3 separate regions of the Homo sapiens genome follow, and regions 2 and 3 are each linked to region 1. Evidence: fine-mapped expression QTL. A gene starts in region 1. Each other region holds a variant in brackets. All regions are shown on one strand. Distances are from middle to middle.

Region 1 (10,673 bases):
AGAACAAGAATGAGTTCATACATGCAGGGATGCAGGCAGAGTCATACCCACCCACCAATATTAAAATGTGTGTTTTTCTTCAGATCTTAGGAAATTCAACTTTGGCTGGAACCATCAACTTTGCTACATCGGCCAATCCAACCAGCTGGGAATTCTAGTAATTTTGCTCACTGCCCCCAGACGACTCTATCCCCTTATGAAGGAGACATATTTGTAACCCACTGAACAGAAAACTGGCCTTTAAAATAATGTCATCCTGCTGTCTCCTTTCTGTGGCTACGGTGCTAATGTGGTATTTCAATTTCTTCCCTCAATATCCTCTTCATTTTAACAAAGAATATTTCTTCTCGAGGCCAGGCACAGTGGCTCACGCCTGTAATCCCAGCACTTTGGGAGGCCAAGGCAGGTGGATCACCTGAGGTCAGGAGTTTGAGACCAGCCTGGCCAACATGGTGAAACCCCGTCTCTACTAAAAATACAAAAATTAGCTGGGCGTGGTGGTGTGCACATGTAATCCCAGCTACCTGGGGAGGCTGAGGCAGGAGAATCGCTTGAAACCAGGAGGTGGAGGTTGCAGTGAGCCAAGATCGGACCACTGCACTCCAGCCTGGGCGACAGAGCGAGACTCCATCTCAAAAAAAAAAATTAATAATAATATTTCTTCTCTTTGCATCATACCTCAGTTTGGTATCACTCTAACCCACAGAGCTTCATTTTACTTCATAGCTTTTAGCAATACAGAACGATTTCTTTATAGTCCATGGCTTCCACTAGGATGTCAGCTCCGTGAAAATGGGAACTTATCACTACTGTATCTCCAGTACCTAAAACAGTGTCTGGCGCTTGATAGGCACTGAATAAGTTCGTGTTGACTGACCGAATGAATAAACATGCAGGCTGTCAGCCGACCACAATTTTCACTTCCCACCAACACCAAACCCTAATCTACAGGTAATCAATCATGGGGATTTAAGATGCTAATTGGTCTCCGTGCCACCATGGAGCCATGCCTCCAGAAATAAGCATCCCCTGCCTCACATTCTGCCTTACAGCCCACCTGCCAGCTCCCACTCCTTCCCACAGCATATCAAAGGGACACAGGTAATACTGTGTTAAGACCCCTTTACAAGGATTATATGCCTTGCCCTTGTCATGCTAATTATAGGGAAACTCCAGCTTTCTTGCAGAGTTTCTCCTGAAATTTCTCACTCTCAACATACCTTCAATTCAGCTTCATTTACTGGCCTAACCTCTTGATCTTTCATTTCACTCTCATTTCCTACTAACAAAGGGTTGGTCTAGCTTCTCATTTCCCAAACACCAAAATATGCTCTCTAAATCCTCCTCTGTGAGAATCACTCCCTGGTTTAGTCTCATAATGCTTTACCAAAAAGCTAAGCAGGCTGGGTGCCGTGGCTCACGCCTGTAATCCCAGCACTTTGGGAGGCGAGGCGGGCGGATCACTTGAGATCAGGAGTTCGAGACCAGCCTGACCAACATGGCAAAACCCCGTCTCTACTAAAAATACAAACATTAGCCAGATGTGGTAGCGCGTGCCTGTAGTCTCAGCTACTCAGGAGGCTGAGGCAAGAGAATTGCTTAAACCCAGGAGGCAGGGGTTGCAATGAGCCGAGATCGCGCCATTGCACTCCAGCCTAAGCAACAGAGTGAGACTCCATCTCAAAAAAAGAAAAAAGAAACCAGGTTTTTAACGTGTCCCAGATACCTTAGCTTTCTTTGTGTCCTGATTGAGGGGTATTATAAGGGAAATGTTATCTGTGGGACACTTTAACAAAGATCTACAAAATAATGATAACAATGTCAGCACTTCCCAGTTACTCAATTTTATCCATCAGTTTCATCCTTCTGCTTCTCATAGCAGGATCTTCAGGAATCAGCTCTTTCTCTTTCTACTTTACCCTATACATACTCCTTTTTTTTTTTTTTTTGTGAGACAGAGTCTCGCTCTGCGACCCAGACTGGAGAGTGCAGTGGTGCGATCTCGGCTCATTGCAACCTCCACCTCTTGGGTTCAAGCAATTCTCTTGCCTCAGCCTCCTAAGTAGCTGGGATTACAGGCACCTGCCACCATGCCTGGCTAATTTTTGTATTTTTAGTAAGAGATGAGATTTCGCCATGTTGGCCAGGCTGGTCTCGAAACTCCTGACCTCAAGTGATCTGCTCACCTTGGCCTCCTATACATACTGAGCCACCGAGCCCGACCCCTATACATACTCCTAAACGTTGCTCAATCTCTCCCCAGAGTTCTTCACCCACTCTCGAGTCTCTATCCTCTTGCTTCATTTCAGTCCATCTCAGTTTATGACACATTACTGTTTGGGTTCTCAATCATTATCCCAAGAGCCACGATGACTTTTACTTAGACCAAAGTCAAGTTCATCCTTACAACCCACAAGTGAGGTTGATCAGAACCCAGAGAGAAGTTTAGCAAAGGAGGTTAAAACGAAGTAAATAATTCCAAACGGTATCTTGAGAAAACTAAATCCTCATTGCTGGTCTGCCATGATCATCACTAATATCAAACAACAAATGTTGGAAACCGCAATGCCCATATGGCACTGGATAAGTTACGAAACCTCTCTTTGCTTCTGTTCTCCCATCTGTCTTGCAAGAACAATAGTGCTCGCTCCCTGGCTCCTAAAGGTATCAAGACAGGGAAAGCTTTTTTTTTTTTTTTTTTTTTTGAGACAGTGTCTTGCTCTGTCGCCAGGCTGAAGTGCAGTGGCGCAATCTCAGCTCACTGCAACCTCCACCTCCCGGGTTCAAGTGATTCTCCTGCCTCAGCCTCCCAAGTAGCTGGGAGTACAGGTGCGCGCCACCACACCCAGGTAATTTTTGTATTTTTAGTAGAGATGGGGTTTCACCATGTTGGCCAGGATGGTCTCGATCTCTTGACCTCATGATCTGCCTGCCTCGGCCTCCCAAAGTGCTAGGATTACAGGCGTGAGCCACAGCGCCTGGCTGGAAAGCATTTTTTAAAAAACAAAACAAAAACAACAGTGTCTTAAAATAAGACTAAAAAATTGTCAAAATAAATCCCTTGACAAACTTATTAAAAAACAGAGATCCAGGCCTGATATCAGATGTTAATCATGCATCTAACCAAATAATATCTTAATTTGGGAGTAGGAGGAGTGCAGAGGGGAGTGGAGGGGGCTTTACTATATAACCAGAAATCTAGGCTAGAATTGTGGCTGTAAATTCACTCTGGCATGACCGAACAGTACCAATGCCAAGAGTAGCACTCAGATGATGCACCAAAGCCCCCCCAAAATCTAGAGTTTCCTGGATGCTACCACCAGGATCCAGTCATGGCAACAGGGATCTTAAAGGTGTAAATGATTAACCTTCAGGATGGCTCACCTAGACGTGCAAACGTTTGAAAAAGCTAAGCTCTCTACCAGGGTAACCCATTGGCTCTCATCTCTTAGATTTCGTAAGAGTTTTACCTTCTGGGTAACATTTCAAAGCCCTGCTAAGATTAGTATCTACACCTGAACTCTGGACCATGGCTCCCTTCCAGCCACTATCTCTAGGCTGTCAATCGGGGTTAATTCGCTTTTTTTTTTTTTTTTAATCCTGTACTCTAATCATAGGAATTTCAACCAAGTTTCAGCTGGCTTCTGCATCTCACACTCCAGCAGGGACACAAGCCCGAAGGAAGAAAGGTGCCCGTCCATCTCCAGGCCGGCTTTCCCCACCTTTTTCCTTTTTGCTTTCCACCTGCATGAAGTTCCCTCTAAAGGTGCATGTCATTTTCTGGCCCTTTAAGTCCCGACACCCCATCCCACTCCGAGTTCCCTTCCATCCTCCGCACTTTCTCCCTCCCCACTTGCAGTTTGCCTCGACCCCCTCGGGGAGTTTCTCGGTCCCTCTCCGGGCGTCTTTCTGCACCCGTACCCTTCTCTCCGCAGAGCGACTCCGGCCTTGCTTCCTCTCCCCTGCCCTTTCCCCTCCCCACCACACCGCTGCAGCAGACGACCCCGTCCCCACAGCCGGCGCGTTCCCTGACCTCCCCTCCGCCCCTCACCTCGGCCCCCTTCCCTCGCGCCCCGGAGCCCCGGCCTCCCCACCCCGCCCCCGGGTCCCCCCACGCCGACCTCGGCCACTCCCTCCCGGTCACTCACAGGAGGCCGGAGCAGGTGGTGCACACGAAGCTGCCCACGGTGATATCCACGTAGGTGACCCCGCGCTGGGCGCACTCGAAGCAGTGGCGGTTCCCGGCCTGGCTGCAGCCACCCAGCTCCCGCACCCGACGGCACCACACCTCCGAGGCCGCCTCCGCCTCCGCCTTGCCCCCGCTGACCCCGCCGCCCGGGCCCGGGCCCTTCTTCGCCGCCATCACCATCGCTGCCCACTCCCTCCCCGCTAGTCAGCAATCACCCCTTCAACCACTGCCGCCTTCCCGCCTCCTCAGCCGCCTCCGCACGCCCGGCTCCCCTGACAGAAGCTCGGGAGCGGGCGGCATCCGCAGGAGACTTCGCCGTCCACCACCCTCCTTGCCCGTCCTGCACACTGATTGGCTAGGTTTCTCCCACCTCCTTACTCCGATTGGCCCTCCCTGGGACGGCCTCCGGTTGCTGGAGCCGCCAATGCCCCGCCCCACCGCCTTCAGGCCTCAGGCCTCTCCTATTGGCCGGCAGAGACCCCAGCAGCGAGAACCGTGCGTGCCCTCTCCTTGTCCCCGCCCCCTCTCGCCGCTGCCTCCACCGTGGCCCGCCTCCTAGTTCCGATTGGTGAGTCCTCGGCACTCGGGCTCCGACGCTAATTTTGATTGGCTGGCGGGGCTGCAAAGTTAGCGCGCGAGACAGAGGAGGTGCCCCGCGCGTGCGTAGCTGTCGTCCTCCCGACTGATGACGTTAATTCCCGGCAAATTTCAAAGGCTTACTCTAGACTGTGTAGAGTGTCATGCAAAGCCGAAGAGAAGTGGCCATGTGAGGGGCTGAGCAGGAGGGGGAAAGAAGAGAGCGCTTAAGGGAGAGAGGGAGAGGGAGCAAGAGTGCTTTACTAGACCAGTGCTCTAATTCCTGAGCCACAGAGCGAAGGGAGTGCTTTATAAATGTCATTTCATTCGCTCCGCCTATCCCAGAGGTGGAATCCCCATTTTACACCCTTAGGTTCAACAACTTGCGGCAGATCACACGAGTGCGTGGCCCAGGATTCCACTCTGGGTCTTCCAACTTTAGAAACCCTGCCTTTAACCCTCCTAGTAGGTGGACTATTATTCGATTATTCATTTAACAAACACTGAGTGTCTGCTAGGTTTCAGGCACGTTCTAGACACTGGGAATAGAATACAGCAGCGAAGCAATCAAACAAAATATTCTTATAGAGCTTAGTTTCTAGTAGGGGGAAGCAAACAATACACAAATTAAAGAATCACCAGTTAGTAATAAATCCTACGCAGAGAATTAAAATCACATCTTGGAAAAGACTTTTTGGGTACTTTTTTAATTTTTTAATTTAATTTTAATTTTTTGAGATGGAGTCTCACTCTGTTGCCCAGACTGGAGTGCAGTGGCACGATGTCAGCTCACTGCAACCTCTGCCTCCTGGGTTTAAGCAATTCTCATGCCTCAGTCTCCTGAGTAGCTGGGATTACAGGCGGCCACCACCACCCCCAGATAATTTTTGTATTTTTATTATTATGATTATTATTATTTGAGATGGAGTCTCGCTCTGTCGCCCAGGCTGGAGTGCAGTGGCACGATCTCGGCTCACTGCAAGCTTCGCCTTCTGGGTTCACGCCATTCTCCTGCCTCAGCCTCCCGAGTAGCTGGGACTACAGGCACCCGCCACCACGCCTGGCTAATTTTTTTGTATTTTCAGTGGAGACGGGGTTTCACCGTGTTAGCAAGGATGGTCTCGATCTTCTGACCTCGTGATCCGCCGGTCTTGGCCTCCCAAAGTGCTGGGATTACAGGCGTGAGCCACCGCGCCCGGCCAATTTTTGTATTTTTAGTAGAGACAGGATTTCACCATGTTGGCCAGGCTGGTCTCAAACTCATGGCCTCAAGTGAGCCTCCCGCCTTGGCGTCCCAAAGTGCTGGGATTACAAGCATGAGCCACAATGCCTGGCCACCTGTTGGGTACTTCAGATTGGGTTGGTCACCATTTTTAAAACAATTACTTTTTTTTTGAGACAGGGTCTCGCTTTATCACCCAGGCTGGAGTGCAGTGACACAATCATGGCTCACTGCAGCCTCAACCTTCTGGACTCAAGTGATCCTTCCACCTCAGCCTTCCAAGTAGCTGGGAGTACAGCTGTGCACCACCATGCCTGGCGAATTTTTAAAAATTTTTTGTAGAGATTGGGTCTCACTATATTGCCCAGGCTGGTCTGGACCTCCTGGGCTCAAGTGATCCGCCCACCTCAGCCTCCATCTCCCAGGTTCAAGCGATTCTCCTGCCTCAGCCTCCCAAGTAGTTGGGATTACAGGTGCGTGCCACCATGTCCAGCTAATTTTTGTATTTTTAGTAGAGATGGGGTTTCACCATATTGGCCAGGCTGGTCTTGAAGTCCTGACTTCAAATGATCCACCCACCTTGGCCTCCCAAAGTGCTAGGATTACAGACGTGAGTCACCGCACCCGGCCTCTTTTTGTTTTGTTTTGTTTTTTTTGTTTTTTTTTTTTTTTTTGAGACAAGGTCTTGCTCTGCTGCCCAGGTTGGAGGGCAGTGGCACAATCATACCTCACTGCAGCCTCAACCTCCCCAGTTCAAGTGATCCTCCCACCTCAGTCTCCAGGGTAGCTGAGACTACAGGCGCACACCACCATGCCTGGCTAATTTTTGATTTTTTGTAGAGAAGGGGTCTCACTATGTTGTCCAGGCTGGTGGCTGGCAGCCTGCTTTCTCTCTCTCTCTCTTGTTTTTTTCTTTTTGAGACAGGGTCTTACTCTGTCACCCAGGCTGGAGTGCAGTGGCACAATCTTGGCTCACTGCAACCTCCACTTCCTGGGGCTTGAGTGCTCCTCCCACCTCAGCCTCCCGAGTAGCTGGGACTACAGGTGCATGCCACCATGCCCAGCTAATTTTTTGTATTTTTAGCATGTTGGCCAGGCTGGTCTCGAACACCTGAGTTCAGGTCATCTGCCCGCTTTGGCCTCTCAAAGTGCTGGGATTATAGGTGTGAGCCACCGCACCCGGCCCCATTTTTCAATTAATGGCACCATGAGCCACCTAGTTGCCCAAAGCAAAAATCTAGAGCTACTCTCTTCAATACGGCAGCCACTAATCATATGTGGCTATTTAAGTTTAAATTAAATTAAAATGGGCTGGGCGTGGTGGCTTATGCCTGTAATCCCAGCATTTTGGGAGGCCGAGGCAGGCGGATCACGAGGTCAGGAGTTCGAGAAAAGCCTGGCCAACATAGTGAAACCCTTTAATCTACTAAAAATACAAAAATTAGCCAGGCATGGTGGCAGGCACCTGTAATCCCAGCTACTTGGAAGGCTGAGTCAGGAGAATTGCTTGAACGTGGGAGGTGGAGGTTGCAGTGAGCTGAGATCGCGCCATTGCACTCCACCCTGGGTGACAGAGCGAGACTGTCTCAAAAAAAAAAAAAGAAAGAAAGAAAGAAGAAGGAAAGAAAAAGAAAAGGAAAGGAAAAGGGGAGACTAAAGGAGGAGTAGGTTAGGGCAGGGCCTAACCTACTGGGCCATGGACCAGTACCTGTCTGTGGCCTGTTAGGAACCAGGCCACGCAGCAGGAAGTAAGTGGTGGGCAAATGAGCAAAGCTGCATCTGTATTTACAGCCACTACCCATTGCTCCCATTACCGCCTGAGCTCTGCCTCCTCTCAGATCCGCAACAGCATTAGATTCTCATAGGAGCACGAACCCTATTGTAAACTGCGCATGCAAGGGATCTAGGTCATGCACTCCTTATAAGAATCTAATGCTTGATGACCTGTCACTGTCTCCCATCACCCCCAGATGGGACCGTCTAGTTGCGAGAAAACAAGCTCAGGGCTCCCACTAATTCCACATGATGGTGAGTTGTATAATTATTTTGTTATACATTACAATGTAATAATAATAGAAATAAAGTGCACAGGCCAGGCGCGGTGGCTCACGCCTCTAATCCCAGCACTTTGGGAGCTGAGGTAGGCAGATCACGAGGTCAGGAAATCGAGACCATCCTGGCCAACATGGTGAAACCTCGTCTCTACTAAAAATACAAAACTTAGCTGGCCATGGTGGCACGTGCCTGTAATCCCAGCTACTTGGGAGGCTGAGGCAGGAGAATCGCTTGAACCCAGGAGGTGGAGGTTGCAGTGAGCCAAGATCGTGCCACTGCACTCCAGCCTGGTGACAGAGCGAGACTCCGTTTAAAAAAAAAAAAGTGCACAATAAACTTAATGTGCTCAGATCATCCCAAAATCATCCCCCAACTCCCACCCGCCGGTTAGTGGAAAAATTATCTTCCTGGTCCGTGGTGCCAAAACGGTTGGGGACTGCTGGGTTAGGGGGTGCTGATAGGCAGAAATCAGTAGCTTGGTTTTGGACATGTTGATTTGAGATCCTTGTGAGGCATCCAGTGGGCTGATAAGCAGGCAGGTGGATATGTATAGACTGGATTTCCAGGCCAGGCCAGAGCTGGAAATGTAGGTTTAGGAGTCATCGCTTAGAGCCATGGGACTGGTTGCTTAGGTACAGCATGTAGAGAGAGACTAGAAGCAGGCCCAGAAGTAAACCCTAGGCACCCAATGTGTACTTTGTTCCTTTTCTCCAGTTATCACAGCCACATGCATTTCAACATCCCTAAAAAAAGGCAACACCAGACCGGGTGCAGTGGCTCATGCCTGTAATCCCAGCACTTTGGGAGGCCGAGGGGGGTGGATCACCTGAGGTCAGGAATTTGAGACCAGCCTGGCTAACATGGTGAAACCCCGTTTCTACTAAAAAATACACAAAATTAGCTGGGCATGGTGGCGCATGCCTGTAATCCCAGCTACTCAGGAGGCTGAGGCAGAATCGCCTGAACCCAGAAGTTGGAGGTTGCAGTGAGCTGAGATCGCACCATTGCACTCCAGCTTGGGCAACAAGAGCAAAACTCCATCTCAAAAAAAAAAAAATACAAAAATCAGCTCGGTGTGATGGCGCATGCCCGTAATCCCAGCTACTCAGGAGGCTGAGGCACAAGAATTGCTTGAACCTGGAAGGCAGAGGTTGCAGTGAGCCAAGATTGCATAGCTCCAGCCCAGGTGACAGAGCGGGACTCTATCCCCCTCACCCCCCTCTTCAAAAAAAAAGAAGGCAATACCGTCACATCCAGATATGCAGATGGGGCATCTCAGCCTACTAAACATTCCTTCTGAATTGCAGAGTTCACAATTTCCAAGTGCTGCCCATGCCTCCTCTAGCTTCTCATTAGCCAAGGGTTATTTCTTTTTTCTTTTCTTTTCTTTTCTTTTTGAGATGGAGTCTCACTCTGTTGCCCAGGTTGGAGTGCGGTGGCACAATCTCGGCTCACTGCAACCTCCGCCTCCTGGGTTCAAGCGATTCTCCTGCCTCAGCCTCATGAGTAGCTGGGACCACAGGCGCATGCCACCATGCCCGGCTAATTTTTTGTACTTTTAGTTGAGACAAGGTTTCACCATGTTAGCTAGGATGGTCTCGATCTGCTGATCTCATGATCAGCCCACCTCGGCCTCCCAAAGTTCTGCTATACAGGCGTGAGCCACCGTGCTCAGCATTTTTTTTTTTTTTGAGATAGAGTTTCACTCTTGTTGCCTAGGTTGAGTACAATGGTGCGATCTCGACTCACTGCAGCCTCCGCCTCCCAGGTTCAAGAAATTCTCTTGCCTCAGCCTCCCTAGTAGCTGGGATTACAGGCGCCCACCACCACACCCGGCTAATTTTTTGTATTTTTAGTAGAGACGGGGTTTCACCATGTTGGCCAGGCTGGTCACGAACTCCTGGCCTCAGGTGATCCACCCGCCTCAGCCTCCCAAAGTGCTGGAATTACAGGCGTGAGCCACCGTGCCCAGCTGAGCCAAGGGTTATTTCTTATCATCTTGCAACTTTGAGCAAATTGGTAAATTTAACTACCACCAATAGTGAGTGAAAAAAATTAGAACGTTCATGTAGATAGTGATGGTTTTCTGCTGATTTTTGCCACTGGGTGTGGTGGTGTGAGGGCCGTTGAGGAGCTCACCCTCCTCCCATCTCTACTCCACCCAGGTCATACTGGGGAGCAACACTCCCATTTTCCCTTCATAATCAGGGGGAGCACAGCCAGCATGGGGAGACCTTTTGCCCTGGTGGCAGGAGGAGTCCTAAATAACCAGGTAGAACTCTTATTGGGTTCCCTGGCAAGAACCTTGCCCTTGGGCAGTTAAACCACAGAGCATGAGTGACTTGGGGCGTGGAAAGCAAATATCTTTTTTTTTTTCTTTGAGACGGAGTTTTGCTCTTGTTGCCCAGGCTGGAGTGCAGTGGCGCGATCTCAGTTCACTGAAACCTCCCGGGTTCATGCAATTCTCCTGCCTCAGCCTCCCGAGTAGCTGGGATTATAGGCGCCCACCACCATGCCTGGCTAATTTTTGTATTTTTGGTAGAGACGGGGTTTCACCATGTTGGCGAGACTGGTCTCAAACTCCTGACCTCAAGTGATCCAGCTGCTTCCACCTCCCAAAGCGCTGGGATT
Region 2 (10,673 bases), 23 kb before region 1:
GGCCAATCCCAGCCTTGCAAATAGCAGCAGCTAGAGGTTATTTCCAGAAAAATCTGCAAAGTAAATACACTGATCACCCAACTCCCATATCTCTTTGCTGCTCTCTGTGGAAGACTCAGACAAACCCCAAGAATGAATGGCCACGGGGCCAGGGCAATGGTGGAAAGGGAGGGGCCTCACCTGGCCTTGGGCCAAACAGCAAGGTGGCCTCTGCCCAGCCAGGTGAGGTGTTTGCCACCCACCCCCTGACCAGGTCTGTCTTGTCACCACACAAATAGCCCAGACACCACAGCTGGATGTTGTCACAACATCCCCAGGTGGAAAGAGCCTGGGGCAGAGAATGTTCCAGACCCAGGAGGGGTCTACTTCCAGCACCACATTGGCACCAACCTCCTTTGCCCACCCTGGCCCCAGTGGGCATTCCCCTCACATCCAACAAACTCCAGTCCCCGGCAGTGGTGGCTCCTCTCCCGCCACGCTTCTTCTCATTGCTAATGCGGGACTCTTGTTCAGACAGGGACGGGCTCTGCCCTGTCTCTGGCCAATGGCAGCATTATCACTGGCCCAGGCAGTCCAGCCCAGCAGAGCCAGGTCAAGGATCAGTCATGTTGACTGACCTGCAACCCCTCAAAGTGGCCTGAAGCAAAACCACAGGCGCCGTTTTCTCTTTCGTTCAAATGCAGTTCTTTTCCAACATTGCCTGCAATGAGCTTTGGTGCAGAGATTTGGGGACAGGGAGGCACATGGAGAAAAAAAAAAAAAAAAAAAGACCAGGCAATTGCACAAAGCCTTTCCCTGGAAAACCCAGGCTCTGGGGATGGTGGGGGTCAGGACACATGGCTGCCCCCCCTCCAGCCCTGGAGCTCCGGCTTTGATGGTCGAGGCACAGATGGGGATTCATCCCATTCCCCACATACGAGAGCAGTCTGGGAGCGGGAGATCGGCTGGGTGTGTGTATATATGTATGTATGTGCATATAGATAGATCTATTTATATATAATAGGCTATATTAGAAAATCCTCTCTATGTATAAATATAAAACACTGGTATCCAAACATGACACCAACAGCTAACTAAAGTGCTTGACAGGAGCCGGGCCCGGGTAAGCTCGATGGTAAACCGCTCATCCTGGGCGCTGGGGAAGCAAAACAATGGGGGACCCCTTCAGCAGGGGGTGCTGCAGGAGGAAAGTGTGTGCTGGCCAAGCTGGGCCACCAAGAGCACTTGGGCCACCTGGGCCTTCTGGGTCTCAGGACTGTCTGGTCACTGCCCCATCAACACTGTGCCTCATCTTTCCCCTACCTTCCCCACTGCGCTCCCGTCCATGAGGAGCACAGCGCTGGCGAGCTAGGCCCAGGGAAGAGCTGTTCCACAGGGGACTGATCATTTGAAAAAAATCCCTCCCCCTCAACCATCACTCCTCCAGGTCAGGCCCTGCCCGCACTCCTCCTGGGCTTCCTGCCTGGGTGGGGGTGGGACGAGGGAGGGGAGAGAGGCTTTGTGGAATCTGAGGGCAGCCACCTTTCACCTGTAGGCCCCAAGCAAAGCATTAGCACCTCCACCATCCCCAAGGCCCATAGAAATGCCCACAGGCAAGTGGTCACCAGAGCTCTAGGGAGCAGAGGGGCCCCAGAAGGCAGGGAAGAGGCCCCCCAAAAACACAGTGCTACAAGAAGGGGTTGGTGGTTGGAGGTTTGGAGGCGAATGGGCTTGATGAGGGTCCAGTCTGGAAAGAAAGAACAATACATTTTCCAGTTAGGGGAGAGGAACTGGAAGCTTAGAAGAAAGGCAGCCAGGAGTCCTTTCTCCTGAAAAATCGCTATGCTGAGGGCAGTGGGAAAGTGAGGGAGAAAAGGCCAGGCACGGTAGCTCATGCCTGTAATCCCAGCCCTTTGGCAGGCCAAGGTGGGCTGATCACCTGAGGTCAGGAGTTCAAGACCAGCCTGGCCAACACGGGAAAACCCTATCTCTACTAAAAATACAAAAATTAGCCATGTGCGGTGGTGCACACCTGTAGTCCCTGCTACTTGGGAGGCTGAGGCAGGAGAATTGCTTGAACTCAGGAGGTAGAGGTTGCGGTGAGCTGAGATTGGGCCTGGGAGACAGAGTGAGGCTGTCTCAAAAAAAAAAAAAAAAGGAAAGTGAGGGAGAAGGGAGCCAAGGGCAGGGCTGGAACAGCATGGGAGATGCCAGTGCCCAGAAGAGCTGAGGCCCAAGCTCAGCCCTGGCTTGGACAACGCAGACCTTCACGAGGAAGGGGCACAGGGGCCACCTCACATCAGCCTCTTCTGGAAGGATTGTCCCAGAGGGAAAGCCCACGAGCCCTACCACAGCACCCCTGCTGGCACACTCACCATGAAGGGGTTGGTGGAGATCCCAGCTGGCTGGCTCAGTGGCCTCTGCCCCAACTTGGCTGATCCTAAGTCCCCGAAGGAAGAGCCTAGGGGGCGAGAGCAGTCACTCAGCTGACACCAGCCTGCCTTCCTGCAGGCGGACAGCAAGGGGGGCCCTCCTAAACTGGGGGAGTAAGGGAACAGAGCAGTGGAAGTACCCGGGCGGGTCTGGTGCTTCCCTGGTCCCCCCTGCTGGTCAGAAAGGGCACTGCATGGGCTCTGATGAGGTCGGAGGAACAACTAACTGATCTCTATGCAGAGATGGGATGGGGTGAAAGGGTTTGTCCATCTACAGCTCTTACCATTCTGCTGCTGAACAAGCGGGGTCTGCGGGGGGAACAGCGGTGCTGGGAAGGAGCTGGCAAAGGCCCCAGTGGGTGGCACTGCCTGGGGGAAGCCAGGCCCAGCACTGCTCATCCCAAAGCCGGGCCCTATGGAGTGAAAGACGGGAGGCTCAGGTGAACTTCTGGAAGGTGGGCTGGAGAACTGTTTTTCCTAAGTCCCTCCAAGATGGGAAAATGGGATATAGTTTTTTCCTGACATGAGGAACGAGGGACCCAGCCATGGAACTCTTCTGCTTCTCACACCACCAAACAACCCTGCCCTCTCCCTGCCCGGGGGTACGTGGCAGGGAGGGCATGGTAGTTCCAGGCACGGGCGCGGTGCAGGACTGGGCTAGCCTCCCACTAAACTGCAAAAACAGCACAAACTTCTAACGCTGTCTGTGCTTCAGTTCTCATCTCTAAAATGGGGACAGTCCGTCTCATAGGGCTACTGTGAAGATCAAATCAGGGCCACGAAGCCCTCAGCACTGGGCCCACCACACAGCTCTTCTGTGTTTGCTCTTATTCCTCTCTCCCCAGCCTCAAGGCTTCAGCCAGCATGAGTCTGAGGGGAGAGCAGCAGAGGCTGGGGAGGGCCAGGGTGAGAGAAGACAACAGGCCTGGAGTTGATGGAAGCAGGGAACAGCGTGAGTGTTTCAGGTGGCTTAAGCTTCGGGACACAGAAGGGACTGGGGCTGGGTGCCCAAAGGGACACTGCTGAGGGCTGGAGACAGGAGAATCGCTGCCACTGTCAGTCAACTCTAAAACAGTCTTCAGTGCGGTCTCCGGTAAGTAGCCACCTGTGTGCTTCTAATTCTAAAATCTGGCTCTGTGACCTGGGTGCTAGGTGGCCTGGCACCGTGTGGGCAGGGGAAGAACCAGGCTGTCTGCTTCTCCTGACAGCGTGAGACAAAGGGTTAAGGGAGAGGCTGCAGGGTAATGTGTGCCTTGGAAGTCTCAGATGGTCAGGACAAGGGACCATGCTGGAGGCTTACCTGGCGCCAAGCCATTGGGCTGGAACGGGTTGGTGGAAGGCAGCGGGGACTGGGCGGCGGGAGCTGTGAAAGGGTTAGTGAAGGCTGCCCAGGTGGAATGGGGAGCGGCAGGAAAGAGAGAGATGGTTACTTTTTTTCTCACGTGCTTCATCCTGTGATGCCTGAGCATTCCTCTCAATCTCTCCCCTTCCCACCCTGTCCAGAGTCCTTAGACTCCTCCTGGCCTCAGGTCCCCTCCCCTGGGTCTCCACAGGCAGGACTCACCTCCAAAGGCCAGCCCTGTGCTGCTGCCGCCGCCGCCGCCCATCGTGACAGACTGGAGCGGGGGGACCTGGCCAGCCATCCCGAAGAGGCTACAACACGGGGAGAGAGAAGTCATACACAGCTGCCAGGGCCAATCAAACCTGAGCAAGGGGCCAGGAGATGCCAACCCTGCTCTCCAGGGTGAGTAAGGGAGAGGAGGGGAGGGGAGAACTGCCAGGAGATGCCGATGGGGCTGGGAGGAACATGGCCAGGCTTCGGGCGGCTCTCCTGCCCTACAGCAGACTGCCCACTGTCTGTACCTACCTGCTAGGAACACCTGCAGCGGGCACCCCGGGTCCCAGGAAGCTGCCCACGTCTGCGAGGCTGTTTGGCTGACTGGCGGGTGCCAGGGGAGTGGCACCAAATGGAGTCCCCTGGCTGCTCCCTGGGCAGTTGTGGAAAATACAACAGGGAGAGCTGAGGTAAGACAGGGCGGGAGGGGCAGGAGAGCAGATGGAGGTGGTGGTGGTGATGGATTGGAGTCATGGCATGACAGGTGCCTGCTGGGTTCTCTGAGGCAGCCCATTTTCTCAGGGACCACCCAGTTCAGGAGGTCTTGTCTCCCACCAAGAGTTCTGGGCAAGGTGACAGCCCAGCCCTTCTCCGTGTCCCCTGCGCTCAAAGCTGCGCTGCGGAGAGGAAAGCAGCTCGTCCCCAGGTCAGGCTGTCCTCCTCCTGCTCCAGTTTGGCTTTCATGTC[T/C]CACTTTTCCCTCAAGAGATGGAAAAGCCTGTCCTTTCCTCAAGCCCGCATTTCCATTTATCAGAACATGGCAGGGAGGGGCAGGCAGAGGCACCATGGAGGACAGCAAGTCCCATCACACTCAGGAGGCTCCTGGCCTGTGCAGCCTCCAGCTATCAGCACTGTCCCTTCCCCATTTAGCCGCTGCTTCTCGGGAGGCCGCCCCAGTGCCCTGAGCCTGGAGGCACTGTTCATGGGGCCAGCCCCGCTGCGGGGTTCTCCTGCCCTGCCTCTTCTTCAGAGCCAAAAAGAAAAAGCACAGAGGGCAAGGCCCACATGGAAATCTTACAAAACAGCTGAGGGCCAAGAGTCCTGGAAATTCCAAGCAATCTTGTCTCAGGGGAAGAGGCTGAGTCCCTGTCATTTTAAGAAAGCCTCCTGTCTGCACATCAAAGTCTCGTCTCTATCTTGGGACCCTATCGACCACACTGGGCTGCTGTGAATGTAAAAGGAGGGTCCAGATGGAAAGAGGCTTTATTGACAGGACGCGGCAGTTCATGCCTGTAATCCCAATACTTTCAGAGGCCAAGGCGAGCAGATTACTTGAGGTCAGGAGTTCGAGACCACCCTTGCCAACATGGTGAAACCCTGTCTCTACTAAAAATACAAAAATTAGCCAGGCATGGTGGCAGGTGCTTGTAATCCCAGCTACTTCGGAGGCTGAAGCAGGAGAATCACTTGAACCCGGGAAGTGGAGGTTGCAGTGAGCTAGGATCACACCATTGCACTCCAGCCTGGGCAATAAGAGCGAAACTCCGTCTCAAAAAAAAAAAAAAAAGGGAGATCTGGCCAGGTGTGGTGGCTCATGCCTGTAATCCTAGCACTTTGGGAGGCCGAGGAGGGCGGATCACGAGGTCAGGAGATCAAGACCAACCTGGCTGACACGGTGAAACCCCGTCTCTACTAAAAATACAAAAAAAAAAAAAATTAGCCAGGCATGGTGGCGGGTGCCTGTAGTTCCAACTACTCAGGAGGCTGAGGCAGGAGAATGGCGTGAACCCGGGAGGTGGAGTTTGCAGTGAGCCGAGATCATATCACTGCACTCCAGCCTGGGCGACAGAGTGAGACTCCGTCTCAAAAAAAAAAAAAAAAAAAAAGGGAGATCTTCCACATGCCAGGCACTATGCATAAATAACAGCGACCCGGGCCCTAAATGGGTGAAGCTGAGAATCTAGTAGGGAAGACGAAGTGCCCAGTGCCTACCTGCTGCCAGGTCCTGAAGCCCCGCTCCCTCTCACTGAGTGTCGGCACTTGTAAGACAGTGCTCTCCTTTGCCACCTCCTTCCTAAATGCCTGGGCTTTCTAGATGAATGAGTGCTGGCTGCCAGCTTCCTCCTGGGCAAGGCTACAATGCCACTGTGCTTACTTGGTCATCAATCCTTTCTAATCCACAGGATGCAAGACAGGCTAGAAAGCCACCTGGGTGGGGCCAGGCCCAGTGGCTCACACCTGTAATCCCAGCACTTTGGGAGGCTGAGGCAAGCAGATCGCTTGAGGTCAGGAGTTTAAGACAAGCCTGGCCAACATGGCAAAACCCTGTCTCTACTAAAAGCACAAAAATAAGCTGGGCGTGGTGGTGCATACCTGTAATCCCAACTACACGGGAGGCTGAGGCACCAGAATCACTTGAACCTGGAAGAGGAAGATTGCAGTGAGCCAAGATTGAGCCACTGCACTCCAGCCTGGGCGACAGGGCAAGACTGTTTCCAAAAAAAAAAAAAAGCCAGCAGCATGGTGTTGGATCCTCTACTGACTCTCCCAGCCGAGGCCTTTCCCTGCCTGCCTGCCTCCAAGTACAGTATGTGGAATTTCCACGCAAGCACGGCTCCCTTTCCTCGGATGGCTGACTCTTTGTGCTGCTGTGGTCCTGCATGTTCCAGGAGCTTCACCCAGTGAGGACCAGGCTGGGAGAGAGGCTGCAGGCCATGCTGTGCCTCCCTGTGGACACTAGGGGGCAGAACCATCCCTAGCCCAGGCAGGGTTGGCCCTTTGCACAGAGGGTGCATTCTCACAAAGGAGGCGGTGGCCCAAGAAACACCTGCACTCCTGTTTGCTTTTCATTTCATGCACTTTTTTTTTTTTTTTTTGAGACAGGGTCTCATTCCAATTGCCCAGGCTGGAGTGCAGTGGCATGATCTCAGCTCACTGCAGCCTCGACCTTCAGGGCTCAGCTGATTCTCCCACCTTAGCCTCCTGAGTAGCTGGGACTACAGGCACGCACCACTATGGCCAGCTAATTATTTGTATTTTTGGTAGAAATGAAGTTTTGCCATGTTGCCCAGGCTGGTCTCAAACTCCTGAGCTCAGGTGATCTGCCCACCTCAGCCTCCCCAAGTGATGGGATTACAGGCATGAGCCACCACACCCGGCCTTCATGCGCTTCTTATACCACGCAGCTAGATTTCTACCCTGCCTTATCACAGTTTGAGGGAGAGAAGCAGTTTTGAAAACCCCTCTCTCCATACTCCCCCTCAGAAATATAAAAATAAAAGCAGGTTTGTCAGAAGAGACACCCACCTCTCAAAATCTCCTCTCTCAGTTCACACCCAACAGCTAAGTCACACTCACGGGAACACCTGCATGATCATGGTGTAGTGGGAAGCGGTTCTGCCAATTATCAGCATTAGATCTGGGCCAAGTTGAGCCAGTTTCCTGCAAAGGGAAGCTCTTTCCTTCCTCATGGACATAATGCATGAAGGCACCCAACAATGGCAGGATCCTCGGAAATGTTCCTTGGCTCTGGGTTTGGCTGTAGATTGACTGTTTTTGTTTTGTTTGAGACAGAGTCTTGCTCTGTCACCCAGAGTGCAGTGGCGCAATCTCAGCTCACTGCTACCTCAGCCTCCCGGGTTCAAGCAATCTTCCTGCCTCAGCCTCCCCAGTAGCTGGGACTACAGTCACGCACCACCATGCCTGGCTAATTTTTGTATTTTGGTAGAGAGGGGTTTCACCATGTAGGCCAGGCTGGTTTCAAACTTCTGACCTCAAATGATGCACCCCACTCAGCCTCCCAAAGTGCCGGGATTACAGGTATGAGCCACTGCGCCCAGTGACTGACTGCTTTTTGAGACAGCCAGATAGTGGACAAAAGGTTTAATGCTTGGGACATCCGTGGAGCTGAGCCCTTCCTTCTCTCTGAGTCTGCCCCAAAAACTGTCTTTACGGTGAAACCCTGTCTCTACTAAAAATACAAAAAATTAGCCAGGTGTGGTGGCGGGTGCCTGTGGCCCCAGCTACTCAGGAGGCTGAGGCAGGAGAATAGCGTGAACCCGAGAGGCGGAGTTTGCAGTGAGCCGAGATTGTGCCACTACACCCCAGCCTGGGTGACAGAGTGAGACTCCGTCTAAAAAAAAAAAAAAACAAAAACAAAAACAAAAAAAACTCTGTCTTTAGAGCAATCAATTGTACTGGGAAGGCATTTCAGAAGGGACGCATCTATAACAACTTTATATAGGCTGTTTCCTCGAGTGCTCCCATTCCTAGGAGCACACCTTTCTTACTAAATCGAATATTCCTGCACCAATGTACAATTCCTGCCAACAGCGCACAAGAAGGTCATTTTCCCCCACATAATACTGGCCATTATCAATCTAAAAATTTTGCCAACATGATGTGCAAAACTATCTTATCCTAGTTTGCATTTCTCTGATTAATTAGGTTGAGGATATTTTCTTTTGTTTTTTTGTTTTTCGAGACAAAGTCTCGCTCTTGTCGCCCAGGCTGGAGCGCAACAGCACGATGTCTGCTCACTGCAACCTCCGCCTCCCGGGTTCAAGTGATTCTCCTGCCTCAGCCTCCCAAGTAGCTGCTATTACAGGCGCCTGCCACCATGCCCGGCTAATATTTGTATTTTTAGCAGAGACAGGGTTTCACCATATCGGCAAGGCTGGTCTTGAACTCCTGACCTCAGGTGATCCACCTGCCTCAGCTTCCCAAACTGCTGGGATTATAGGCATGAGCCACCGCGCCTGGCCTATTTTCATATTTTTTTTTCTGGGTGTTACCTGCTTATATGTCTTGTCCATTATTATATTTTCATATTCACAGGAATTTTAAAAATACTTTATGGATACTAATTTCCATCTGTTTTCCATGTTGTATCTTCTCTCCATCTGTTTCATACCTTTAAGCTTTGTTTGTGTCATCTTTTATCATACAGAATGTGACCTATGGCCAGGCATAGTGGCCCATGCCTATAATCCCAGAACTTTGGGAGGCCAAGGCAGGCGGATCACTTGAGGTCAGGAGATTGAGACCGGCCTAGCCAACATGGTGAAACCCCGTCTCTACTAAAAATACAAAAATTAGCCGGGCATGGTGGCATGCGCCTGTAATCCTGCTACTCAGGAGGCTGAGGCAGGAGAATCGCTTGAATGAGATCACGCCATTGCACTCCAGCCTGGGCAGCAGAGTAAGACTCTGTCTCAAAAAACACACAAACAACAAAACAACAACAAAAACCAAAATGTGACCTATGTGATTTGTCTTTGTTAGAATTTATGGAGATTTTGTTTCCTATAGTTTATTTCTTACTTGTCTATTAGTCATGTGGGAAAGCATATTATAGTCTCCTAGTCCTTTGGCTTATTAAATTCTGATTGTGTCTAATAGTTTTTGCTTCGTGAATCTCATGGGTATGCGGTCAGTTATTTTAAGTACATGATTTTGAGAACCTCTTTGTGAATTTTAACTTTTTTTTTTTTTTTTGAGACAAGAGTCTTACTCTGTCACTCAGGCTGGAGTGCAGTGGCAGGATCTCGGCTCGCTGCAGCCTCTGTCTCCCAGGTTCAAGTGATTCTCCTGCCTCAGTCCCCTGAGTAGCTGGGATTACAGGTGCCTGCCACCATGCCCAGCTAATTTTTGTATTTTGAGTAGAGACGGTGTTTCACCATGTTGGCCAGGCTTATGTCAAACTCCTGACCTCAGGTGATCTGCCCACCTGGGCCTCCCAAAGTGCTGGCATCACAGATGTGAGCCACCACGCCCAGCCAACTTTTATCAATATAAAATGTTTCTTCTTATAGCCCTCCAAAACGATAAAATAAAAACAAAAGCAGCTAATCAGCTCACAGTGGCACAGTGAGAAGGCTGTGGGCAGAGCATGAGTCAAGAAGTCTGGGCTCTGGTCTCAGCTTGGTCGCTCTGTGGCCTGCATGACTAGGGAAATTGCTTAACTGCCTTATCTGTCAAATGGCCAAATTTTAAGGGTTCCTTCCAGCCCTCAAAACTCTATGATCAGAGGCACTTGGGTAGGCTCTGGGGTGGGGATAATAACTTACCAAAGCTGTAACTTTCAGTTAGCATCCGACTGGCTGGCAGTGAGGGTGGAGAAGAGAAGGGTGGGTAGAGGAAGGGAGAAAGAAAGAGTGTATGTCACTGGCTTTTCCCCAGACATCTGAGCCTGACGGCGAGCACTGCAGCTGCCCTCCCATGTGTCCAGGATGTCCAATGGCAGAAGGCACCCAAAGGCTATGAAGACTCAATGTGTAGAGCTTAGGAAGGAGCAGAATGCTTTAAGAAGGCCTGAAGAGTCTCTTGCAATGGCTAAATAACATAGTTTATTTGGTTTTGTTTGTTCGTTCGTTTGTTTTGAGATGGGGTCTCACTCTGTCACCCAGACTGGAGTGCAATGGCACAATAATCACTCACTACAGCCTCAAACTCCTGGGCTCAAGCGATCCTCCCACCTCGGCCTCCCAAAGTGTTAGGATTGCAGGCGTGAGCCATTGTGGCTGGCAGCAACATAGAGTTTACAGGCCTTTGGTCTTAGAGGGATGGATGAGGACTTCTGGAGACTACCTTGACCCTTGACCCTTTGGGACAGCGTACTATGCAGACAAGAGCACCTTAGAGAAAAAGTCACGTCCATTTTCAATTTTTCTAGGACTCAGGTCTTCCATACTTCCTAGTGAAAAGTTTCC
Region 3 (10,673 bases), 31 kb after region 1:
CCTAAGCAGTGGGGATTTCATTAGGCTGGCTAATCATTTTTAGACTCTGAATGTCAGAGCCCAAGTCAGTAATAATAATAGGAGACTTCCATACCCCATTTAAATAATGGAGAAGTCATTAGGCAGAAGATCAACAAGGAAATAGAAGACTTGAACAACAGTATAAACTGATCAGACCTAACAGGTATCTATAAAATATTCAACCCGCCAACTGCATAATCTATATTCTTCTCAAGTCCACAAGGACACTCTCCAGAATGAACTATATGTTAGGCCATAAAATAAGTCTCAATATATTTAAAAAGATTGAAATCATACACAGTACATTCTCTAACCATAATAAAACAAAATTAGAAATCAATAATAGAGCCCAGGCACAGTGGCTCACACCTGTAATCACAAAATTTTGGGAGACCGAGGCAGGAGGATCACTTGAGGCCAGGAGTTCAAGGCTAGCCTGGCCAAAGTGATGAAACCTTGTCTCTACTAAAAATACAAAAAATTAGCCAGGTAAGGTGGCATACGCCTGTAATCCCAACTACTTGGGAGGCTGAGGCACAAGAATCGCTTGAACCTGGGAGGCAGAGGTTGCAGTGAACCTCAGTGAACTGAGATTGTGCCACAGCACTCCAGCCTGGGTGACAGAGCGAGACTCTGTCTCAGAATAAAATAAAATGAAATATAAAATAAATCAATAATAGAAATTTGAGAAATTTAAAACTATGTGGAAATTAAACGCAGTCCTAAATAACTCATAGGTCAAAGAAGAAATCACGGCTGGACATGGTGGCTCACGTTTGTAATCCCAGCACTTTGGGAGACCAAGGTGGGTGGATCACCTGAGGTCAGGAGTTCAAAATCAGCCTGGCTAACATGGTGAAACCCCGTCTCTACTGAATATACAAAATTAGCTGGGCGTGGTGGTGCATGCCTGTAACCCCAGCTACTTGGGAGGGTGAGACAGGAGAATCGCTCTAACCCAGGAGGCAGACGTTGCAGCGAGCAGGGATCGTGCCACTGCACTCCAGCCTGGGTGGGTGACAGAGTGAGACTCCATCTCCAAAAAAAAAAAAAGAAAGAAAAAGAAATCACAAGAGAAATTAGAAACTACTTGGAGATAAATGAAACTGAATGATATACCAAAAACTTAAAGGATTTAGCTAAAGCAATATTTTGAAGGATATTTATAGTTGTAAATGCCTACAGTGAAAAAGAAGAAAGATCTCAAATTCAACAACCCATTTATTTATTTATTTATTTACTTATTTATTTATCTATTTACTTATTTTTTGAGACAAAGTCTCGCTCTATCTGAGGCTGGAGTGCAGTGGCGCAATCTCAGCTCAATGCAACCTGCGACTCCCCTGTTCAAGGGATTCTCCTGCCTCAGCCTCCTTAGTAGCTGGGATTACAGGCGCCTGCCACTGCACCCAGCTAATTTTTGTATTTTTAGTAGAGACGGGGTTTCACCATTTTGGCCAGGAGGGTCTCGATCTCCTGACCTTGTGATCCACACGCCTCAGCCTCCCAAAGTGCTGGGACTACAGGTGTGAGCCACCACACCCGGCTAATTTTTGTATTTTTAGTAGAGACAGGGTTTCTCCATGTTGCCCAGGCTGGTCTCAAACTGCTAACCTCAAGTGATCCGCCCGCCTGCCTTGGCCTCCCAAAGTGCTGGGATTACAGACAGGAGCCACTGCGCCTGGCCTGCATGTCTTCTTTGATCTGGCCCCACCCTCCTTTACTTACTCTGTTCCTTCAAATTGGAATGTCCTTCAGCCTCCACATCTACAACAATGGCTGGAATTGTCTCCGTTCTTCAAGGCCTGATTATAATTCCATCATCTTCATGTAACCTTTTTTTTTTTTCTTCATCCTACTCTTCAACTGATGGAGCACAAAGTCTGGTAGAGGAGATAAAGGAGACAATTGGGTTCTGTCTTGCAATGTGATAACACTCTGGTGGGTGTGTGCACAGAGTCCTAGGAAGGCAGGAGGGTGAGGTAGAAACTGTTGGGTTAGTTGAAAGATAGAAAATTGCACACTCCAGTTGACTTCCACTTCTGAGGGCTTAGAACTCCATGAGGAGGCATCGATTTCATCTTAAAGGATCCCTTTCTACACTCATTTCTTTTCTTTCTTCTCTTTCTTTTTTTTTTTTTTTTGTTTTGTTTTGTTTTTAGAGACTGGGTCTTATTCTGTCACCCAGCCTGGAGTGCAGTGGTGTGATCGTAGTTCACTGCAGCCTCCAACTCCTGGGTTCAAGTGATCCTCCCATCTCAGCCTCCCAAATAGCTGAGACTACAAGTTTGCATCACCATGCCTGGCTAATTTTTTTTACTTTTGGTAGACACAAAGTCTCACTCTGTTACCCAGGCTGATCTCGAACTCCTTGCCTCAAGCAATCTTCCCACCTCGGCCTCCGAAAGCACTAGAATTTCAGGCATGAGCCACCACACGTGGCCTAACCTGCTGTTTTCTCAAGAGCAGGACAGTTTTTAATTTCTGGACCTATCGCATCTAGCAAGGTTCCTGGCCAGAAAAAGTGAAAATAATTTTTTTTTTTTTTTGGAGACAGAGTCTCGCTCTGTTGCCCAGGCTGGAGTGCAGTGGCGTGATCTTGGCTCACTGCAACCTCCACCTCCTGGGTTCAAGTGATTCTCCTGCCTTAGCCTCTAGAGTAGCTGGGATTACAGGCATGCGCCACTACGCCTGGCTAATTTTTTTTTTTGAGATGGAGTCTCACTCTGTTGCCCAGGCCAGAGGGCAGTAGAGTGATCTCGGCTCACTGCAACCTCTGCCTCCCGGGTTCTAGCGATTCTCCTGCCTCAGCCTCCAGAGTAGCTGGGATTACAGGCACCCACCACCATACCCGGCTAATTTTTGTATTTTTAATACAGACAGGTTTTCACCATCTTGGCCAGGCTGGTCTTGAACTCCTGACCTTGTGATCCACCTGCCTTGGCCTCCCAAAGTGTTGGGATTACAGGTGTGAGCCACCACACCCTGTTGCCTGGCTAATTTTGTATTTTTAGTAGAGATGGGGTTTTTCTATGTTGGTCAGGCTGGTCTCAAACTGCTAACCTCAAGTGATCCGCCTGCCTCGGCCTCCCAAAGTGCTGGGATTACAGGCATGAGCCACCACACCTGGCTGGGACTTGCTTTTAATAAACTAAATGTGATGGAAATGACAGTGTGTGATTTCTGGGGCTAGGTCATAAAAGACATTGTGCTTCTGCCTTGCTCTCTCTCTCTCAGAGCCCCCACTCCGGGGGCAAGCCAGCTGCCGCATCACGAGGACATCCACGCAACCTATAGAGCTGCTCAGGAGGAACTGAGGCCGGCTGCCAATAACCAGCACCAACTTGCCTGCCGTGTGAGTGAGCCATCTGGGAAACCAAGCCTCCAGCCTCCATGAAGCCTGCAGGTAACGTCAGCCCTCCAGTCTTCCGGTCTTCCAGCTGAGGCCCCACACGTCGTGGAGCAGAGCCAAGCCAATCCCGTCATGCCCTGAATTCCTGATCCACAGAACTGCGAGAGAATACATGAAAATTGTTTTAAGCCACTACGCTCTGAGATAGTTTGTTATGCAGCAGACAACAACTGATGTAACAGTGGCAGGTGTACACGGAGTGCCAAGGGAATGCAAAGAACGGACACTTAGGGGCTTGGAGTGGTGGCTCATGCCTGTAATCCCAGCACTTTAGGAGGCTGAGGCATGAGAATCACTTGAAACCAGGAGTTCAAGACCAGTTTGGGCAACATACGAGACCCCTGTCTCTACAAAAAAATTTTAAAAATTAGCTGCCCACACTGGCACATGCCTCTAGTCCCAGCTACTCTGGAGGCCGAGGCAGGAGGATGGCTTGAGTCCAGGAATTGGAGGCTGAAGTGAGCTATGACTGCACCACTGCACTCCAGCCTGGGAGACAGAGTGAGACTGAGACCCTGTCTCAAAAAATATATATATTATAAATACTTAATTCTAAATTTTATGATATAATTGTATTGAGAGGATAGGGGAAGGGAAAGAGTTTTGTGTGGGGGTGTAAAAGTTAAATCCTCATTTCCTGTTTTAAGAAATCATAGATCGTATCTAAAATAGAAAAATCAAGGAATAGCTATACAAGCAAGTTATTTAGAAACTGGAGCTGGGCTCATGCCTGTAATCTCAGCACTTTGGGAGGCCGAGGCAGGAGGATCACCT[G/A]CGGTCAGGAGTTCAAGGGTAGCCTGGCCAACATGGTGAAACCCCATCTCTACAGAAAATACAAAAATTAGCCGTGTGTGGTGGCACGCGCCTGTAGTCCCAGCTACTCAGGAGGCTGAGGCACGAGAATCGCTTGAACCCAGGAGGCGGAAGTTGCAGTGAGCCAAGATCATGCCACTGCACTCCAGCCTAGGTGACAGAGCAAGACTCTGTCTAAAGAAAAAAAAAAAAAAAACAGAAAAGAAACCAAGAGGCATATACTGGAAGAAACAACTGAAGAAGTTGGTTGAATCCAAGAAGCAGGTCAAGAGTAGAAAGAGCAGGGATTGCTTTTCACCATTGTTAACCTTTTAGTACAATTTGACTCTTAAAATTATGTATGTGTATAACTTGACAAAATAAAAACAAACTAAAAAAAGGTCAGAGAGAAGGAGCAATAAAATAGGAGATTTAGGTGGAGCGATGGAACATGTTGTTCTTTGTATTTTATTTTATTTATTATTATTATTATTATTATTATTATTTTGAAACAGAGTTTCCCTCTTGTTGCCCAGGCTGGAGTGCAGGGGCGCGAGCTCAGCTCACCACAACCTCTGCCTCCTGGCTTCAAGCAATTCTCCTGCCTCAGCTTCCCGAGTAGCTGGGATTACAGCCATGTGCCACCACGCCCAGATAATTTTGTATTTTTAGTAGAGATGGGGTTTCTCCATGTTGGTCAGGCTAGTCTCGAACTCCCAACCTCAGGTGATTCGCCTACCTTCACCTCAGGTGATTCACCCTCCCAAAGTGCTGGGATTACAGGCGTGAGCCACCACACCCAGCCTGTTCTTTGCATTTTAAATTAAGGGGCAGGGCACATCAAACTATTTAATATGTGCAATGAACAATAAAATATATCCTTAGGATTTATATGGGGCAATTATAGAGCAAAGATACAGGAAGAGATCGATGTCAGGAGACAGTGTGATGGAGAAACAAAGGACAGAAGGAAAGAGAGGGGAAGAGATAGAAACAAATGCCAAGACCCAGGAAAACACAGAAAGACATAACCCAGCCTCATATAAACTCAAAGTGAGAAGGTGGAGAGACATAAAGAAATCCACAGGTGGCTGGGCGTGGTGGCTCACGCCTGTAATCCCAGCACTTTAGGAGGCCGAGGCGGTGGATCACCTGAGGTCAGGAGTTCGAGACCAGCCTCGCTAACATGGAGAAACTCCGTCTCTACTAAAAATACAAAAAGTAGGCGTAGTGGCACATGCCTGTAATCCCAGCTACTCCAGAGGCTGAGGCAGGATAATTGCTTGAACCCGGGAGGTGGAGGTTGCAGTGAGCTGAGATTGGGTCACTGCACCGCAGCTTGGGCGACACAGCGAGACTCCATCGCAAAAAAAGAAAAAAGAAAGAAATCCATGGGCTATGGAAGTATGTACGCTCACTCAGGCACACACCACCAAGCGTGATGAAGACCCAAGTCTACATAGATAGCACCTCACACTTTTGTTAAATAGCACAGAATTAAAGAATTATCCCAGCCTGGACAACATGGCAAAACCCTGTCTCTATCAAAAGTACAAAAATTAGCCAGGTGTGGTGGTGCGCGATGTAGTCCCAGCTACTTGGGAGGCTGAGGTGGGAGGATCTCCTGAACCCAGCAGGCTGAGGTTGCAGTGAGCCATGATCACACCACCGCACTCCAGCTTGGGCAACAGAGTGAGACCCTGTCTTACAAAAAAAAGAAAAAAAAAAAAAGAAAAGAAAGAAAAGGAAAGGAAAGGAAAAGAAAAGAAAAAATGATTGTTGAGGTAGGAGGCAAGACTCAACTCCAGAGGCAGGGCACGGACACCAGACCAAATTGAGGACCAACTAAAAATGGGTTGGGACAGAAGCAGCTTTCCATAAAGACATCCCTTCCAGAGTGCCATGTCAGTTTACCGTTGCCATGACAACACCCAGAAGTTATCTCCCCTTTCCATGGCAACCACCTACCGACCTGGAAGTTACCACCCTCATCCTAGACATTTCTGCATAAGCCACCCCTTAATTTGCATATAATTAAAAATGGGCATAAATGAGTTTAGGTCTGCCTCTCAGCTGCTATTCTGGACACAGTGCCTATGGGTCATCCCTGCTCTGCAAGGAGCCGTACCTTTGCTGCGGCTGTGCACTGAAGCTTCAATAAAAGTTGTAACACTGGCTGGACACGAGTGCTCAAACCTATAATCCCAGCACTTTGGGAGGTGGAGGTGGGCGGATCACTTTAGCTCAGGAGTTCAAGACCAACCTGGGCAACATGGTGAAACCTCGACTCTACAAAGTACAAAACATATTAGCCAGGCATGGTGGTGTGTGCCTGTAGTCCCAGCTTCTCAGAAGACAGGGGTGAAGGATTGCTTGAGCCCAGGAGGCAAAAGTTTCAGTGAGACTTGATCATGCCACTGCACTCCAGCCTGGGTGACAGAGTGAGACCCTACCTCCAAAAAAAAAAAAAAGTCTTGTTCTACCAGCTAATTGGATTGGCAGGGACCTCCTTTTTAATATATATATATAGGTATGTGCCACCGCACCTGGCTAATTTTTGTTTTTCTTTTTTTTTTTTTTTGAGATGGAGTCTCGCTCTGTTGCCCAGGCTGGAGTGCAGTGGCGTGATCTCGGCTCACTGCAAGTGGGTTCATGCCATTTTCCTGCCTCAGCCTCCCGAGTAGCTAGGACTACAGGCGCCTGCCACCATGCCCGGCTAATTTTTTTTTTTTTTTTTTTTTTTTGTATTTTTGGTAGAGACAGGGTTTCATGTGCTAGCCAGGATGGTCTCGATCTCCTGATCTCGTGATCCACTCACCTTGACCTCCCAAAGTGCTGGGATTACAGGTGTGAGCCACCGGGCCTGGCCTAATTTTTGTATTTTTAGTAGAGATGGGGTTTTGCCATGTTGCCCAGGCTGGTCTTGAACTCCTGGGCTCAAGTGATTCACCTGCCTCGGCCTCCCAAAGTGTTGGGATTACAGGCGTGAGCCGCCACGCCAGGCCTCATGAGTTTCTTATGTAGCTGTATCAAACTTGTTTCTCTTTTGAACTGTGATTACAGTTCCAGTGTTCATATGTTGCCCTGCAAGTAGGTTATAAGTGCATGGGGGACAGGAACCAAGCCTTATCTACTGAAGAATCTTCCTCGGGCCCAGCTTCCAGGGAGGCTCTGAATTTGAAGCCCCTCTCTGCCATTCACTTGCTGTGTGACTTTGGGCAGGTTACTTGACCTCTCTGTGTGTCAGAGCTTTTATCTTCAGAGATACCACTGGGTTGAATGACATAAAATTGCCAATATTCTATTATATTTGACCCCAAAATGGCAATTTCATATAGTTCAACCTAATAAAACCACTACCTCTTAGGTATTTTGAGGGTTAATTGTCATGTCTATTGTACCCCAGGCAAGCACCATCCTGCTGAGTACAAAGTGGACCTGATAGTAAAGCCCCTCAGACTTTGTGGAACAAAAGCAGAACCCTAGGAACGGCAGAGCAACCAGTTAGAAAGAGCCTGGCTCCTGATGAACTGCAGCTTCCGTATCTGTTATGGATTGCTAATGTCTGGACCCTTATATGAGCAAGATGTAATCCCCCATTTAGGTTAAACCACTGTTCTTTGGGTCTGGGTTTTTTGTTTGTTTGTTTTTTCTTTGAGACGGAGTCTCGCTCTGTCTCCTCAGCTGGAGCGCAGTGGCGTGATCTTGGCTCACTGCAATCTCCGCCTCCTAGGTTCAAGCGATTCTCCTGCCTCAGCCTCCCCAAGTAGCTGGGACTAAAGGCGCCCACCACCACGCCCAGCTAATTTTTGTGTTTTTAGTAGAGATGAGGTTTCGCCATGTTGACCAGGCTGGTCTCAAACTCCTGAACTCAAGTGATCTGCCCCTCTTGGCCTCCCTAAGTGCTGGGATTACAGGTGTGAGCAACCATGCTCAGCCTGGGTCTGTTTTGAAAGAGGTAAACTGACATCTTAATTAATAATGGGTGTGTGTCAGAGAGAAATAAACCATGTACTTCCACATAGAGATTTCTGCCTTAAGGCCGGGCACAGTGGCTCACACCTGTAATCCCAGCACTTTGGGAGGCCAAGGCGGAAGGATTATCTGAGGTCAGAAGTTCCAGACCAGCCTGTACAACATGACGAAACCCCGTCTCCACTAAAAATACAAAAATTAGCCAGGCATGGTGGCGCGCGCATGTAATCCCAGCTACTCGGAAGGCTGAGGCAGGAGAATCACTTCAACCTGGGAGGCGGAGGTTGCAGTGAGCCAAGATTGCACCACTGTATTCCAGCCTGGGTGACAGAGCAAGACTCCATCTCAAAAAAAAAAAAAAAAAGTTTCTGCCTTGGGAGACTGAATGTGATGACACTGGCTGAGATGGTCAGTCCAAGACATGAGGGCTGGTTGGGGAAGTAATGAGTTCAATTGCAGATAGATTTTTGTTTTTGTTTTTAGAGACAGGGTGTCTGCAGATAGATTTTTGTTTTTGTTTTTAGAGACAGGGTGTCTCGCTCTGTTGCCCAAGGTGGAGTGCAGTGGTGTGATCATAGCTTACTGCAGCCTTGAAATCCTGGGCTCAAGCGATCCTCCCACCTCAGCCTCCTGAGTAGCTGGGACTACAGGCATGTGCCACCACGGCTGGCTAATTATTATTTTTTATTTTTTGCAGAGACGGGGGTCTCTCTATGTTGCCCGAGCCAGTCTCGAACTCCTGGCCTCAAGTGATCCATCTGCCTCAACACCCTAAAGTGCTGGCACTATAGGCATGAGCCACGGCACCCAGCCACTGTAAGCCTTTTTGCTTCACCTAGCCACCAATCTAAATGGGGGGAAGTGTTCTCCATTTTTTTAGATTTTCATATCTGTAAGTAGACCAACCATGACAGCTTTACGACCCAAATACAAGGCTACATTTGATGTTACTAGCGAGCAAAATAACTTCAGATCTACATGGGCAGTGAAATAAATAGTGCGCATCTTTAAAATTTCCCCTCTAGTTCTAATCTTTTCAGGTTTCCCCCTCATTACTCTGAAATTTCTGGAATGTGTACATGTTGCTCTCACACCCATTCCTGGGCTTTAAGGCAGGAACATCAAAAAACATCAGCATGAGGTCACCACTTGGTCAGTGGAAAATTTTTTTTTTTTTTCTGAGATGGAGTTTCGCCCTGTTGCCTAGGCTGGAGTGCAGTGGCGTAATCTCAGTTCACTGCAACCTCCACCTCCCGGGTTCAAGCAATTCTCCTGCCTCAGCCTTCCAAGTAGCTGGGATTACAGGAGCGTGCCAGCATGCCCAGCTAATTTTTTGTATTTAGTAGAGTTGGGGTTTTGCCATGTTGGCCAAGCTGGTCTGAAACTCCTGACCTCATGATCTGCCCCCCTTGGCCTCCTAAAGTGCTGAGATTACAGGCATGAGCCACCGCGCCCGGCGGGTCAGTGGAAATTTTTTTAAATGGTGGTGACACCATCTCTGGTGCTTCCACCCTGTGGCTCCTGGCTCCCAGCCATTTTTCATGGTGGCAAAGACTGCCCCCAGGGTGGTGGCAGAGGTCAGTGTGTGGCCTGGACGAGTCCCAGCCAACATGCTCCTCACCCCATCCTGGACGCAACGTGGAGGTGGTAGAGAGAGAGGAGCAAGGGAAGCTGGACCCCCGCAGAGTGGACCACTACTCTACAGGGACATGCATGAGGGACACCTGGATCTGAACAGCTAGCACTGAGACACTCCAACACACGGTACCTGGAAACCGCAGGTGGCACTTTGAGGAAACAACCAGGTACGTGCAGGGATTTTTTTTTTTTTTTGAGACAGAGTCTGTCAGCCCAGGCTGCAGTGCACTGGTGTGATCTCAGCTCACCACAACCTCCGCCTCCCAGGTTCAAGTGATTCTCCTGTCTCAGCCTCCCGTGTAGCTGGGATTACAGGCGCCTGCCACCACACCCGGCTAATTTTTGTATTTTTAGTAGAGACAGGGTTTCACCATGTTGGCCAGGCTGGTCTTGAACTCCTGGCTTCCAGCAATCCACCCGCCTTGGCCTCCCAAAGTGCTGGGATTACAGGCGTGAACCACCTCATTCTGCCTTTTTGTTTTTTTTTTTTTTTTTAAAGAGACAGGGTCTCCCTCTGTCCCCCAGGCTGGAGTGCTGTGGTGCAATGATAGTTCACTGCGGCCTCCATCTCCTAGGTTCAAGTGATCCTCTCATCTCAGCCTCCTGAATAGCTGGGACTAGAAGGGTGTACCACCATACCTGGCTAATTTTTTAATTTTCTGAAAATAAGGTCTTGCTATACTGTCCAGGCTGGTTATTTTTAGTTAGAGAGATGTTGTGTGTTTTGGAAGGGGCTTCCTAGATCATCTGCTCCCAATCCTTATTTTTTTCAAAGGAGAAAAATGTTTGACTCATCATACTGACTTTAAAAAAACCCACTTTTTATTGTGGAAAA

Alleles and levels. Positions count from the first base shown, and alleles are read on the strand shown. Sizes are in standard deviations (SD) of each study's normalised expression. Not every link is listed here.
For the expression in cerebellum of the gene that starts at base 4,513 in region 1, allele C in region 2 goes with a higher level than allele T (moderate effect, 0.41 SD a copy in GTEx).

What was found. PIP is the estimated chance that this variant, and not a neighbour inherited with it, causes the effect.
Region 2: its variant is the best candidate, but not a certain one, in a credible set for the expression of AGFG2 in cerebellum (GTEx, PIP 0.65).
Region 3: its variant is the best candidate, but not a certain one, in a credible set for the expression of AGFG2 in whole blood (INTERVAL, PIP 0.69).

The regions. Positions count from the first base shown.
Region 1 is chr7:100,533,043-100,543,715 of GRCh38, reverse strand. AGFG2 (ArfGAP with FG repeats 2) reads right to left here and starts at 4,513. Exons shown (of 12, transcript NM_006076.5): 1 at 4,149-4,513. The coding sequence starts at 4,369. It overlaps LOC124901708 (a long non-coding RNA gene), which reads left to right. Exons shown (of 2, transcript XR_007060453.1): 2 at 84-249. RefSeq lists silencers at 1,509-1,598, 4,153-4,452, 4,503-4,782, an enhancer at 4,662-5,163 and a cis regulatory region at 10,039-10,383.
Region 2 is chr7:100,555,985-100,566,657 of GRCh38, reverse strand. AGFG2 (ArfGAP with FG repeats 2) reads right to left here. Exons shown (of 12, transcript NM_006076.5): 7 at 4,279-4,399; 8 at 3,976-4,064; 9 at 3,712-3,795; 10 at 2,696-2,824; 11 at 2,355-2,440; 12 at 1-1,726. The coding sequence ends at 1,667. Among named protein-coding and RNA genes, the nearest start is that of SAP25, 13 kb to the left of the region's middle. RefSeq lists enhancers at 6,554-6,603, 6,874-6,923. The variant T/C (reference allele first, on the strand shown) is at 4,714.
Region 3 is chr7:100,502,213-100,512,885 of GRCh38, reverse strand. It overlaps LOC107986829 (a long non-coding RNA gene), which reads right to left and starts at 3,122. Exons shown (of 4, transcript XR_001745301.2): 1 at 3,085-3,122; 2 at 1,750-1,904. The variant G/A (reference allele first, on the strand shown) is at 4,208.